2 separate regions of the Homo sapiens genome follow, and region 2 is linked to region 1. Evidence: fine-mapped expression QTL. Tissue or cell type: whole blood. Region 1 holds a variant in brackets; the other region holds the start of a gene. All regions are shown on one strand. Distances are between the middles of the regions.

Region 1 (2,753 bases):
AGGAGGGTCATGAGTACAGCTGGGACTCGAAGAGGCTGAGGTCCTTTGAGATGACCCAGGAGCTGTCGACAAGGCAGGGCCAGGGCCAGGGCCAAGGCCAGGGTGGAGATCAAGGGGTGTCAGCAGAGGGGCAGGGGCCACACTGGGGGGCTTCCCAGGGAGCAGGGTCCCGGGATCAGCAGGTCACCCTAGGAGGCCTTGTTGAGTCTAGCCTTCAGGGAAGCTGTTTCTGCGATGCCCCAGGCACCTCTCAGCATCGCACAGGGCAGGGCTGTCCTTGAGTTCTAAGTCCTGGGACCTGGTGTTCAAATTCAATGGACTCAGATGCCCCACAGAGCCCATGTGCCCAGCCACGGAGGACGTGGGGTCTCTGACCACAAATGGGGCACGGCCAAAGGGCACCCGGCTCCCCCTCAGCCTGTCACAGCATGAGGTTGGGGGTAGAGTGGTCCTGCAGCCCTCAGCCCCACCCCGCTGGTGTGGAGTTGGGAGGGCACAGGAATGGGAGGGCCCAAGGGCTGAGGACCAGCAGGTGCAGAGTGAGGAGGGGCTGAGGCGTCCAGGATAGAGGGAGGCCGGGCTGAAGGGCGGCTGGGGGTGGAGAGAGGCCAGCTCCTCACACGTCCGCCCCCCAGGTGTTTGAGGCGCGTTCGGTATCCATCTTGGCGGACCTTATTCTGTGGCCATGGTTCTGGGAGGATGGAATCCTGAGGTCCGGTGTGCGGGGCCCCGAACAAAAGCCCCACGGTGTTCGGGGCCAGGCTGGGTGTGGGATGAGCACAGGAAACGGGGGCACAGTTGCGGAGGGAGCCCAAGGAGACCATGGACTTGGCAGGAAAATCCCAGGCAGGGCCCAGGCAGGGCCCCTGAGTCTGCGGGACCCCGAGGCGGGCGCTCCCTCAGGGACCACCCAGGGCATCAGCATGGCCGCCTAAAGTCCTAAAAATACCTGCCTGAAAGGAGCCTGCAGTCAGCTCCCTGGTCTCCCTTCCCTGTTATGACTTCCCAGCTCCTGTTTTTCCCAGGAAGGACAACCCCCCCCATCCCGAATCCCCCAGAGGCACGTCCTGGGAGGGGGCGCAGAGACCGCAGGGCGCCCTCCAAATGAGACTCCTGAAATTTCCCAATCCATTTCC[A/G]CAAGGTGTACTTTCCTTTAAAATAACTCTAAAAATTTGAATATATTAATCACATAAATAAATAACACACACCATATTACATATCCCATATGTCAATATTTACACATGCATTATGTAAATCGATTTATGCCGTATATTTATATAGATGTAAGCATGTATATGCGATGGAAATGTACACATGACATAATATAAATATTTGATTCCTCATGTTGTTTGGAAGAATTGCCTGTTACTAAAAATGGGACCATAACTGGATCCAGAAAAGTATTTTAACACTTGGAGCTCTTTAGACACAAGAATTACGTTGCTATTTAAATTTCAAACACGTTTTTTGTTGTGGGGAATGTAATCTGGCAATTAGTAAATACTTCCAAGCATTGAGTACTCACTCCATGGAGAAACGGGATGCAGTGAACTGTGAATTGGAGTAGAAAGGATGCTGTGGTTTTCCCTCTGTACATTTAAGTGTGGATGGGGAGAAGGGAGTGGCTGTGGTCTCGGGTGGATGGGGTGAGGGGAGTGGCTGTGGTCTCGGGTGGATGGTGAGAGGGGAGTGGCTGTGGTCTCGGGTGGATGGTGAGAGGGGAGTGGCTGTGGTCTCGGGTGGATGGGGAGAGGGGAGTGGCTGTGGTCTCGGGTGGATGGGGAGAGGGGAGTGGCTGTGGTCTCGGGTGGATGGGGAGAAGGGAGTGGCTGTGGTCTCGGGTGGATGGGGAGAGGGGAGTGGCTGTGGTCTCGGGTGGATGGGGAGAAGGGAGTGGCTGTGGTCTCGGGCGGATGGGGAGAGGGGAGTGGCTGTGGTCTCGGGCGGATGGGGAGAGGGGAGTGGCTGTGGTCTCGGGCGGATGGGGAGAGGGGAGTGGCTGTGGTCTAGGGCGGATGGGGAGAAGAGAGTGGCTGTGGTCTCGGGTGGATGGGGAGAGGGGAGTGGCTGTGGTCTTGGGTGGATGGTGAGAAGGGAGTGGCTGTGGTCTCGGGCGGATGGGGAGAGGGGAGTGGCTGTGGTCTCGGGCGGATGGGGAGAAGAGAGTGGCTGTGGTCTCTGGTGGATGGTGAGAGGGGAGTGGCTGTGGTCTCGGGCGGATGGTGAGAGGGGAGTGGCTGTGGTCTCGGGCGGATGGTGAGAGGGGAGTGGCTGTGGTCTCGGGCGGATGGTGAGAGGGGAGTGGCTGTGGTCTCTGGTGGATGGGGAGAGGGGAGTGGCTGTGGTCTCGGGCGGATGGGGAGAGGGGAGTGGCTGTGGTCTCGGGCGGATGGGGAGAGGGGAGTGGCTGTGGTCTCGGGTGGATGGGGAGAGGGGAGTGGCTGTGGTCTCGGGTGGATGGGGAGAAGGGAGTGGCTGTGGTCTCGGGTGGATGGGGAGAAGGGAGTGGCTGTGGTCTCGGGCGGATGGGGAGAGGGGAGTGGCTGTGGTCTCGGGCGGATGGGGAGAGGGGAGTGGCTGTGGTCTCGGGTGGATGGGGAGAGGGGAGTGGCTGTGGTCTCGGGTGGATGGGGAGAGGGGAGTGGCTGTGGTCTCGGGTGGATGGGGAGAGGGGAGTGGCTGTGGTCTCGGGTGGATGGGGAGAGGGGAGTGGCTGTGGTCTCGGGTGGATGGGGAGAGGGGAGTGGCTGTGG
Region 2 (2,617 bases), 200 kb before region 1:
ACTGTGGGGACCTGCAGGCACCTGGACGCGGGCAGCAGGGACAGTGGCCAGCACCCTCCCAGATGGCTTCGGGGCCTGGGGCAAACGGTGGCCAAATCGGCTTCCCATCCAGACCCCCTGGCCAAGTCCTGCCAACCACAGGGGCTGCGGGTGCCACCCAAGTGGCCCCTCCATATGCCTCGACTGCCTGAAATACACCTGCGCTGACTTGCTTGGACCCCAAGGTTTTGGAGCTCCTGAATGTCCACTGCGCTGGGCGAGGGGCCCTGCCAGGACCCCACTGGGAGACTGTCCGCGGACGAGGGCCAGGCCGAGTACTTGTGTGGGGCGGGGAGGCCTCGGCTCCTGGCCCGACTCCCTGGGTAGGAGTCCATTGAAGGCAGCGGTGGGGCAGGAGCCTCAGAAGGAACCAACGAACCCAGCGGGAGTTCACCCGGCCGCCCCAGCGGGGGGGCGCTGACCCCACGACGTGTGCTCTAAATCTTCCGGGTCCACAGGAGACGCGAGTCCCGGCTGCGGAACAGGGGAGGGGGCTGTAGGAAGAGGCCACGTCGCTGCCCCCAGGCAGGGTTTCTAAGCTGAGCTGGGGACAGCTACTGGGTGTGGAGTGAGGAAGGCTCTCCCCGCGCCCCCGGCTCAGCACTGTACCAGGGCAAGGCAGGGCCAGCCTGGCCGACCTGGGGTGGAGGGGAAGGAGGCTGAGGGCCAGGTCCTTGTCCAGTGGGGAGCTGGGGGCCAGCATCCCTGTGCCCCCAACACCCTCAACCGAGCAAACTCGGGGGCTCAAGGCTTTCGGGGTGCCCCCACTCCGTAGCCCCTGCCCTTCCTCGCTTTGTGGGTGCGTGCTCCTGCCCCCGCCACTCCCACCCGGAACGCACGCAGCGCGCAGAGCTCGGGGCGGCCGCGATGCCTGCTCTCGCCCAGCCCGGCTGCTCCGGGGCTGCTGCAAGCCGGCGACCCGGGCTCCGGGTGGGCGACCCCCTCACAACTCCACGGGCTCCTGCGGCTGCGGCGCGCTCCCAGCGCACGGAGCCGGGACGGCAGCCGGCGCCTCCCCAGGACTCGCGTGCGCTCGCCCGGTCGCTCAGCCCGCGTCCCTGCCTCAGTCTCCCCACCCAGGAAATGGGTCCAGGGCGCCAGGGCTCCCGCGCGACGCCGACGTGCACTGCTGGGGTCTTCCCGGTCCCCGCCACCCGGCCCGCGGAGACCCCCGGCTCCGGCCCAGGAGCTCCGCGCCCGTCCCGCCCGCGCGCTCACCACTCCCAGGCTGAGGTCCTCGGCGCGCGGCGCGGGTGCGGGCGCGGCGCAGCCCCCGCGGGTCCCCAGCGCCAGCAGCAGCAGCAGCGGCAGCGGCAGCCGCGAGAGTCCGGGCCCTGGGGGCGGCGGGCCGGGTCCCCGGGCTGCGCGGCGCCGCATGGCGCTCACATGGGCCCGCGGGCGGCGTGCAGGGTCCCGCGCCCTCCGCTTCGCGTTCCGCAGCCCGGCGCCCTCCGCTCTCCGCGGCGCCCCCGCCGGACTGAGCCCCGCGCGGCAGCCTCAAGCGGCGGGGCGGGGCCATGCAAATGTATGCTAACGAGGCCGGCCGCCTTAAAGGGCCCGCGCCGCCTCGGACGCTGCCACCCCCGCCCGCCCCGCCGTGTCCGCGACGGGACTGGGTCCGCGGCATCACAGGGAAGGCGTTTCCCCGGGTGTCTTAGGACGCTCTTGGGGCGGCGGGGACGCGCGGGATGGGCGCGGAGGCGGGGGTCGGGGCGCCTGCGGGGAGCTGACCCTGACTCCCCTCTCCGGCCGCGCTCCCGGGTCCACCCCCCACGGCGCCGAGGCCCGGGTTCAGACCCGGGTTCAGGCCCCGGAGCCGCCGCCGCAGCGCAGCAGGTGGGCGCTTGGTGGAGCCCGCGGACCGCGGGAGAGGGAGGGTGGGGCTTGGGGGGCGCGGGGGACTGGAGGGCGAGGGCGGGTGTTGGGGGGGCTGGGGTCCTCGGCGGAGGCTCTGCGGTCCCTGCGGGCCTGGGAGCGAGAATGTTAACTTGTAATGTTTGTTGGAGCGCAGCGTGTGCCTGGCACATGCCCAGGAGTTACATAAATAATTTCATTTACTTACAACATTTATGAGATGAAAACTATGATTTCCATTTCGCAGACAAAGAAACTGAGGCCCAAAGAAATGAAGTAACTTATGGGAGGTCCTGGAGCGGGCAAGCGGCAGAGCCAGGGTCAGAGCCCGAGCAGGCGCTTGTGTGGATTGAACTCGTGCAAGTTGCGTACAGGCTGCCCACCGAGTGGGAGATCTTGGGAGAGGGCAGGGGGTGAGGTTCAAGGGTAACCCTTGCCTTTATTCAGCTTCTCCTCGTGCTGGACAGCATGGCTTCCCCTCCTTCCCAGGCCCTCCTGCTCCACCACCCCAAATCGCAGCTGGTACTGTCAGGACTGAGGTCTCATTCTACGGACAGGGAAACTGAGGCTCGGCCCCTTTTACCAGAACTGGTCTCAGGGAAGTGGTGCCCCTCCCCTCCTGTGAGGGCCGACTCCCCCCAACCACCCCCCCCCCCCCCCCCCCGCTTCCCTGGGTACTCTGGCCCATCCTGTCCCTGCTGCCCTCAGAGCCTCCCTGGCCCGG

Evidence for each region. PIP is the estimated chance that this variant, and not a neighbour inherited with it, causes the effect.
Region 2: it holds the start of MMP17, and the variant in region 1 is fine-mapped to the expression of MMP17 in whole blood (TOPMed, PIP 0.95).

What each region holds. Positions count from the first base shown.
Region 1 is chr12:131,626,685-131,629,437 of GRCh38, reverse strand. No RefSeq gene overlaps it. Among named protein-coding and RNA genes, the nearest start is that of LINC02414, 20 kb to the left of the region's middle. The variant A/G (reference allele first, on the strand shown) is at 1,137.
Region 2 is chr12:131,827,294-131,829,910 of GRCh38, reverse strand. It overlaps MMP17 (matrix metallopeptidase 17), which reads right to left and starts at 1,518. Exons shown (of 10, transcript NM_016155.7): 1 at 1,258-1,518. The coding sequence starts at 1,416. RefSeq lists a silencer at 1,524-1,653.